Homo sapiens: one gene and its partner. The protein of the gene in region 2 purifies or fractionates together with the protein of the main gene of each other region. This does not show direct contact. Each region holds a gene or a part of one and is shown on either strand. Other genes may lie near its edges.

The links. Proteins that work in one complex are often made in the same cells at the same time.
Region 1: the proteins of MAST3 (region 2) and ZBTB21 purify together in Homo sapiens (affinity purification with mass spectrometry, with the first as the bait; one large-scale study listed by BioGRID). This does not show direct contact.

Annotation. Positions count from the first base shown.
Region 1 is NC_000021.9:41,996,861-42,000,360, reverse strand, and holds part of ZBTB21 (zinc finger and BTB domain-containing protein 21), read left to right. Parts: intron 1-3,500. UniProt on the Homo sapiens protein: Acts as a transcription repressor.
Region 2 is NC_000019.10:18,096,585-18,102,114, forward strand, and holds the start of MAST3 (microtubule-associated serine/threonine-protein kinase 3), read left to right. Parts: upstream 1-1,193; 5' UTR 1,194-1,208; coding exon 1,209-1,247; intron 1,248-2,170; coding exon of another isoform or gene 2,171-2,181; exon of another isoform or gene 2,182-2,343; intron 2,344-5,530. Other genes in the region: IL12RB1 (interleukin-12 receptor subunit beta-1), read right to left, coding at 2,171-2,181.

The DNA.
Region 1 (3,500 bases), on a different chromosome or scaffold from region 2:
TATTTGGGAACTGATCCCAGGAAGCACAAGAAAGGAAGTAGGGACAGTAAGGCGGAGATGGAGGCTCATAAAGGGTACATTGATGAACAGGTTGCTGCTCACGTGTAGGATATCAAAACTGAATTCTTTAAAAAATCTGAACTCCTGGTTTTTCTGTCAAACCCCATCTCTCCTAAGGATGCCCTTCCAGTTATTTTGGCAGAATACTTAACTCCACACCTTCTGTTTTCTCCTGCAGTCTGTCCACTAGAAATTCTAATGACTCTGCCTTTACCTCCGTTGCTACCACCCTGGTCCCAGCCACCATCCTCTCTCATCTGGGTCATTACAGTGGACTGCAAGCTGGCCCGCAGCTTCCCCCATAACCTACCCTCTGTTGTCTAATCTCAACAACAGAGCCAGAGCAATCCTTTGGAAATGTAATTCAGGTCTTTGTCATTCCTCTGCTCAGAATCTTCAATGGCTGTCCATTTCATCCATAGTAAAAAATAAAGTTCTTCTGGAGGTCTCCCAGCCCTAGACGGTCTTACTTCTTATTGCCTCTCAGATGTCATCTTACATGGCTCCCAGCACACACTGCTCCATCCCTCCTGTTGCCTTAGCTTCTCCCTTTGTTGTGATGTTCTTCCTCCATTTATCTCCATGGCTCATCCCTCGCCTCCTTCACACCTTCTTTGATCCCATTTTGATGAATGAATGACATGAGAAGTTTCTGGTATAGTTTGTAGTGTAGGTTCCTGTACAGTTAGGTGCTATATAAATGGTAGCGACTATTATTATCTTATTTAATTCCCACAATAGCATTATGTGGTAGCTGCTAGTATTATCCTTATTTTATGGCGAGGTAAACTGAGGCTCAAAGAGGTTGGTTAGCCTAGAACAGTGGCTCTCAAAATATTTTGACTGACCCACAGGAAGGAATACATTTTACATCTCAATCCAGTCCATGCTTGCTTATGTGGGTATGTACATATATATAATAGAAACAAAAGTTTCTCAAGCTCATAATTAGCCTTATGACATTTGATGCATTCTGATATTTTCTACTCTGTCCTAGTCATTTATTTTTTAATTGCTAGTTTTAAACCACCAAGTTGAGTTTAAGAACCCCTTTTGACAAAGACTATCCAAGCCTTTAAATCTGTACCTTTAATTCTGTGTTACAGCTTTTCCCTGTGGCAACATCTGAACTAGCTTTGTCAAAAATTATTAGTGCTAAAAACTCCTCAGTACCCAGCTGAGTCAATACGTGTAACATTATAAGCTTATGTCTTTTTCTGCTGATCTCTGTAAAAGATGGTAAGGGTTTCTTCATACAAATAGATGTAAAGAAAGTATAGTAGGATTAAGGAAAATTTAAATGACTAAGAGAAGAAAAAGGAAGGGAAATTATCAAGTAGTCACAAATAGAATAATTTTTTAAAAAAATAGAGGAATTAAAATTTACCATTTACTTTGAAAGGATGGTAGGCGGGAGTGGACAGAAACTTGGTACAGTCTGACCAAAGTAGTTGTTTGTGGACAGGCTAAAGGCATCATCTCTAGAAGCAAAGTCCTGTGTCTCAGTCGGTTAAATTGAGTCGCATCTTATCAGGGAGTCAGAAGGAATTGTATACCGTGTGTGGCCACTCCCAGGTTGACAGCCTAGGAGACTCTGGGCTCTTCCTGAAGAGCCTGGTGGCTGGGGTAACCAGCAAAGGCCAGAAGAGAACCTACAAATGAGCTGGGGTCAAGTTTGGTTCATCTACAGTTTGCCCGCTAGAGAAAGATAAAACCGTCACAGATAGTTACTTGGGATTCATGTAATCTTAAAAATAAATGTCTTAACAATATTTGAAAGAAAATATGGCATTATAAAATGAAAGGGATGAGCCAGCTGTGGTGGCTCACACCTGTAATCCCAGCACTTTGGGAGGCCGAGGCAGGCAGATCACGTGAGGTCAGGAGTTCGGGACCAGTCTGGCTAATATGGTGAAACCCCAACTATATAAAAATACAAAAATTAGCTGGGCGTGGTGGTGCACGCCTGTAATCCCAGCTACTCAGGAGGCTGAGGCAGGAGAATCGTTTGAACCCAGGAGGCAGAGGTTGCAGGGAGCCAAGACTGAGTCATTGCACTCCAGCCTGGGCAACAGAGCGAGACCCTGTCTAGAAAAAAAAAAAAAAAATGAAAAGGATGAGGTGTTAGAGGAACAGAAGCCTAAATAAAGGGTCAAATACACAGAGTCAGGCATTGTCTCTGCATGAAATGGCTTTGTCTGCATCGAGAGTATGGTGGGGTTAATCTGCCCACTTTCTTTGATACTGAATTAGATGCCTATTAATCCTGCAATTTCTGAAAGTTAAGTGCACATTTGTTGAGTTTTCTTTAGATGAACTCTTTGCAACAACCCTGCAAGAGGAGGGCACAGTTGTCATTCCTAACTCAGGTGAGGGATCTGCCACACCGAGAGGCTAACAGAAACACCCAAGGACAATCAGCCAGCCTGCAAGGAACTGGCATCTCAACCCAAGTGTCTGGCACCAGAGCTTGCACTCTACCACTAGGCCTCCTCTTCTCATGTTTAGATTTGAAGAGCATTTCAGTGAAATATCAGTTTAAACTCTTTAATTAAATTTAGAACTAGGCTAAAGTTTCCTTTGTGCTATTGTTGAAAATGTGATTTGGTAAGAAAATAGTATTCATGAGATTGCAAGGCAAATAGCATAAGAAAGAAAACAAACTTATTCTTCAACACTTCTAATCTTTTTTTTGTTTTTTTGTTTTTTTGTTTTTTTTTTTTTTGAGACAACGTCTTGCTCTGTCAACCAGGCTGGAGTGCAGTGGCGCAATCTTGGCTCACTACAACCTCCACTTCCCAGGCTTAAGTGATTGTCATGCTTCAGCCTCCTGAGTAGCTGGGATTACAGGCACATGCCACCACCCTCGGCTAATTTTTGTATTTTTAGTAGAGATGGAATTTCACCATGTTGGCCAGGCTTGTCTCGAACTCCTGACCTCAAGTGACCTGCCCGCTTTGGCCTCCCAAAGTGCTGGGATTACAAGCGTGAGCCACCGTGCCTGGCGTAAACACTTTCATTAGTAATTAGCAAATAATTTTTTGCTTTCCAAATTCTTTTCTATTTTTAAAGGTCTCTTGGCCAGGCTCAGTGGTTCATGCCTGTAATCCCAACACTTGGGGAGGCTGAAGCAGGAGGATCTCTTGAGCCCACGAGTTGGAGACCAGCCTGAGCAACATAGTGAGGCCCCATTTCTAAAAATAAAAAATAAAAAAAATTACCCAGGTGTAATTAGTCCATTTTCACAATGCTAATAAAGACATACCTGAGACTGGGTAACTAACAAAGAAAAAGAGGTTCAGTGGACTCACAGGTCCATGTGACTGGGGAGGCTGTGTAATTATGGCAGAAGGCAAGGAGTGCAGGGCACATCTCACATGGTGGCAGGGAAGAGAGAACTTGTGCAGGGGAACTCCTCGTTATGAAACCATCAGCTCTCC
Region 2 (5,530 bases):
AGAACTTTGGGAGGCTAAGGTGGGTGAATCACCTGAGGCCAGGAGTTCGAGACAAGCCTGGCCAACATGGTGAGACCTCATCTCTACCAAAAATACAAAAAATCAGCCTGGTGTGGTGGTGGGCACCTGTAGTCCCAGCTACTAGGGAGGCTGAGGCATGAGAATAGCTTGAACCCAGGAGGCAGGGGTTGCCGAGATCATGCCACTGCATTCTAGTCTGGGCAACAGAGAGACTCGTCTCATAAATTAAAAAAAAAAAAAAAAAGTTTTGGTGTTTTGGCCATATGCGGTGGCTGACACCTGTAATCCCAACACTTTGGGAGGCCTAGGCAGAAGGATCTTTTGAGGCCAGGAGTTCAAGACCAGCCTGGGCAACATAGTGAGATCCCCGTCTCTAAAAATAAAATAAAAAATAAAAGTTTTGATGTTTTGTTCATCATAAATGTTTTCATTAATTTTATGTTTTTAAAATATTATTTCTCTTGATGGCTGAGTTTTGTGGGGCCACCTTAAATTTTGCACAGGGGTGAGATCCTCACTCGCCTCACCCTAGAACCCGTTCTGCTGTGTGTACTGGGCACATTTTTTGTTGTTGTTTTGTTTTTGTTTTTGAGACAGAGTCTCGCTCTGTCGCCCAGTCTGGAGTGCAGCGGCGCTATCCCGGCTCACTGTAACCTCCGCCTCTTGGATTCAAGCGATTCTCCTGCCTCAGTCTTCTGAGTAGCTGGGATTACAGGCGCGCGTCACCACCCCCAAGTAATTTTTTTTTTGTTTTGTTTTGGTTTTTTTTGTTTAGTAGAGACAGGGTTTCACCATGTTGGCCAGGGTGATCTCGAACTCCTGACCTCAAGTGATCTGCCCACCTCGGCCTCCCAAAGTGCTGGGATACAGGCGTGAGCCACTGCGCCCGGCCAATGCGCTGGGCATATTGATTAACCTATCTTAGCCTCAGTTTCTTCATCTGCAAAATGGGGCTGAACGATGCTGCCTTACTTCTGAGAGGATTCATGCAAAATATTTACTTCTGCGCTCTGCTGGAGGGGCGGGGCCAGCTCGCCCAGTGGGGGCGGGGCCCTGTGGTCGGGCTCCCCGGGAGGGGCGGGGCCAGGCCGTGTCAGCTGACCGGCCTGGCCAATGGCACCTGGCGGCGGGGCCTGGCAGGCCGGGGCGGGGCCGGGGGCGGGCCTGGCGGCGCGGACTCCCGGGCCATGGACGAGTCGAGCCTCCTGCGGCGCCGCGGGCTCCAGGTGAGGCCCCTGCGCGGGCGGGCGGAAGGCAGAGGGCGCGGCCAAGTGGACGCGGCCTGAAAGGTGCCGGGAGGGGCGGGGCCTTCACGGGCTGTAGGGAAACTGAGGCAGAGGGTGGGGAACGCTCAGATCGCTTCTTTTTGACCACCCGCTTCTCAAAGTGCTTTTTCTCATGGTGGGAAGGGGGAAGGTGCCCCCTTGGACATCTAGGGAAACTGAGGCTCCAAGCGATGGCGTGGGAGGAAGAGGCTGAGGGCTCTGCCCCTCCCCACCAGCTGTTCTAATAATAATGCTAGCAACAGCAGCCAGAGAGCTCACCATATGTTCATGGTTGTTTTAGTCCTATTACTAGCGATGTATTAATATGAGTTCATATGTATTAATACCTCCTTGGGTCGTCGCTGCACCACTGTACACCCTCAGCTCAGCCCTACGACGACCTGGGGAGGTTGGGGCTGTCAGGCGCCCATTTGTCAGAATAAGGAAACTGAGGCTCTAGTCCCGGAAAGCCACTCTCCAGAGGTCGCCTAGCTGGGATTCGATCTGCGCCCTCAACCAGCTCTCTTACGGCACAAGGCGCTGCCAACCAGCAGTGTGACCTGGGGGGAGGGCACCCTTGCTTCTCTGGGCCTCAGTTTTCCAATGAGCCATAGGGTCCTCCTTTTACTGAGTTTATGTTTAGGAGGCTGTGTCATCAGGAGGTAGGGACACAGGCGTCGGGGACAGCAGAAGCCTAAGTTTGAAGCCACACAGGGACTACATGACCCCGGGCAGCCACCCTTTGACTTCTCTGGGCCTCAGTGTCCCCATTATAAGAAAAGAAAAACAGGAATTAAGATTTGGCCATTTTCCTCTGGGACTTAGACCACACCCTTAAGAAGCCACCAAGTTTTCAGGTAGGGAACCTGGGATTCAGCACTTACCCAACGAACATTTATGGAGCGCCTGCTGTGTGCCTGGCTCTGGAGAGGCAGCGGAGTGTTCTGCAACCTCTGGAGCTGCCCTCCTAGAAACCCCAACCTGTTGGGGGAGGTAGACGCCAGAGCAGCGGTGACCCCACGGAGTGATCAGTTGTGATAAGGGACTCACAGCAAGTGAAGGAGGCGCCTGACCCAGTCATTGCTGGGAGCCCTGGGGTAGAGGAGGCAGCCAAGGGTGGCGAGGCATTGCAGCGGGGGGCGGTATTTAGGGAAATGAAAGAGGTTGACAGAAGCTGGAACCTAGGGAGGACTGAGCAGGTGGGGTGGGGGTCGGGGACTGAGGTTAGCTCCGGGCGGGTTGAGGGGGTGAGAGGAATGGGGCCGGCGGGTCTCCAACCTGGAGCCGCACCGGTAGCTGCGGGACTGCGAACTCAGCAGGTGATGGGAAGCCAGGTCGGGAGTGGTCAGGGAAGGCACGGGCTGAGCTGCAGATCAGAGACACCCGGTCTCTGGCCGCGCGGGGGTGGGGCAGAACTGGAGGCGCTGAGGCCAGAGGCAAGAGTGGGGGACTTGGGCGGAAAGGAGGGGGCGGGGCGGGATTGGCGAGCAGCGTGGTGTTGGTGGGGGGGCAGTCCCGCCTCCAGCCCCAGTTAGATGCCAACCCGCCCGCAGCCTCTTAAAATAGAGAAACCGCCTCCGGGTAGGCGAATGGGGGTGCTGCTGACGTCAAGAAGTGGGGCCTGTTCCATGGTGGGGGGGTCAAACATTTCCTGATGGTAAGTTCTATGTTACAAAAGGGGAAACTGAGGTTCAGAGAAGCATAGCCACTGTCCGGGTTTCACAAAGTATAGGTGACAGAGTCAGACAGGATTTGAACCCACGCAGTTCCGGCTTCCTCTCCAAACCAACCCAGCACAGGCGTCCCTCCACGAAGGTGGAGGGATGAGCACGGATTCCCCGACTGAATGAGGGCATTCCGGGCAGAGGCCACAGCACGTGCAAAGGCCCAGAGGCATGTAGCCTTTCTTACCTGTTTATATGGGGAAACAAGAACTTGAACCTATTTCTTAGCACTAGAGGCTGATGGCCAGGACTTAATGCTTCCAGGGCCTTCAGTGCTGATTTTGAAGAGGTTAGACTTTCCCCCTAGGGTGATGGGGAGCTATGGAAGGTGCTGGAGCAGGAGAGGACATGCCCATATTGAGGGGCTGGGAAGACTCCTCTGGAGGGCTAGGAGCAGGAGTGGGGGAATCAAAAAGGGCAGGAAGCCAGGAAGGAGCATGGAATGAAAGTCTAAGTGTACCAGGTGTGGTGGCTCATGACTGTAGTCCCAGCTACTCAAGGAGGCTGAGGCAGAAGGATCTCTCTCTCTCTCTCTTTTTTTTTTTTTTGAGAAAGAATCATGCTCTGTTACCCAGGCTGGAGTCCAGTGGCGCAATCTCGGCTCACTGCAACCTCCACCTCCCGGGTTCAAGTAATTCTCCCTGCCTCAGCCTCCCGAGTAGCTGGGATTACAGGCACATGTCACCACGCCCGGCTAATTTTTGTATTTTTAGTAGAGACGGGGTTTCGCCATGTTGGCCAGGCTGGTATCAAACTCCTGATCTCAGGTGATCCGCCCACCTCGGCCTCCCAAAGTGCTAGAATTACAGGCGTGAGCCACCGCGCCCAGCCAAGAAGGATCTCTTGAGCCCAGGAGTTTGAGGCTATAGTGAGCCATGATCACGAGACCCTATCTCAAAAATAAAAATAAAGGTCCAAGTGGAAGAAGATTAAAATAATAATAAAATAATAGTAAAGTGGGAATAACCGTTCATATTAACAGGCTAAGCCCTCTCATGCATTCAATTCTCCCAACAGCCCGAGTGGTCAGTGCTATTATTAGTTCCACTTTTCAAAGGAAGAAACTGAGGCCCAAAGAGGGAAGTACCCACCAGGAAGCCAGAGAAATTCTAACCAATCTGGCACGTGAAGGTGTTGTCTTCATCAGCCCCAGTTTGGGGTCTCTTTTGACTGGAAACCTTGTTAATGGTCCAGGAGCACCCCAGCCAATCAGGGGGTAGATCGCTGATGCGAGCCAATCAGATTTCCTGGAGGCCAAAGGCCAAAGAGTCCATTCACAAACGGGTGCTGACCGGCCAATCCAGACGCATAGCCCAGGGCGTCCTCTCCGGTGGTGACAATGTGAGGCGTGCTGTTGGCTGTGTGCAGGAAAGGTCTGAAAAAGGATCCGGCCTGGCCCGCGGGCGGCCAGTTTGCGACAGCCCTGGGTCCAGGGAGGAGGTGGAGACCTTCCCAATTTGGGTTAAACTCAGCCTCACGCATAACGTGTGCAGGCACCGGGTAACGTGAGCTGTTATTACTACTACTACTATTATCTTATTACATTTATCATCTCCTACTTGGACCTTTGCTTTACACATGACCGAATTTCAAAACACCAGGTCCCACAAACAGAGCATCCCCCGGCAGAGAAGGGCTAGAGCCTGTATCTGGACTTTTGTCTCTGCCGCTACTGGGGTGGCTCCTCTAGGTTCAGCCCTCCAAGGTGATCCTGCTTTCTCATGGACAGCTTCCACTTATTTTCCTCCTCCTCCTCCTCCTCCTCCTTCTCCTTCTCCTCCTCCTCCTCCTCCTCCTGGAAGCCCTGGGGCTGGTGCCATGTGGTCCATGCTGACTTCTCTCCCATTTAATTCCAGGGGCATCGAACTTCCAACCGGGCTTGGTGCCCAGCAGGCTGAGTCTCACCTCCCTTTGCACGTGCTGTTTGCTGGGCATGGACTGGTGTTTTCCATGTGCCTGCAGGCTTTGTTTGACACCCCCTACTCCAGGAAGCCCCTTAGCTCTCCTCTCTGTGTGCCTCCAACCCCTCTTCTCCCTTTGAGTCTCTCTTTTTTTAGACAGGATCTTGCCCTGTCGCCCAGGCTGGAGTGCGGTGGCCCAGGCTGGAGTGCAGTGGCGCCATCTTGGCTCACTGCAGGCTCCGTCACCTGGATACAAGCGATTCTCACAGCCTCAGCCTCCTGAGTAGCTGGATTACAGGCGAGCGCCACCACACCCGACTAATATAATTTTTATATTTTTTAGTAGAGATGGTGTTTCACCATGTTGGCCAGAATGGCCTCAAACTCTTTTTTTTTTTTTTTTTTTTTTTGAGACGGAGTCTTGCTCTGTCGCCCAGGCTGGAGTGCAGTGGCGTGATCTCCGCTCATTCCACCTCCCAGGTTCATGCCATTCTCCTGCCTCAGCCTCCCGAGTAGCTGGGACTACAGGCTCCTGCCACCACACCCGGCTAATTTTTTGTATTTTTAGCAGAGACGGGCTTTCACCGTGTTAGCCAGGATGGTCTCCATCTGCTGACTT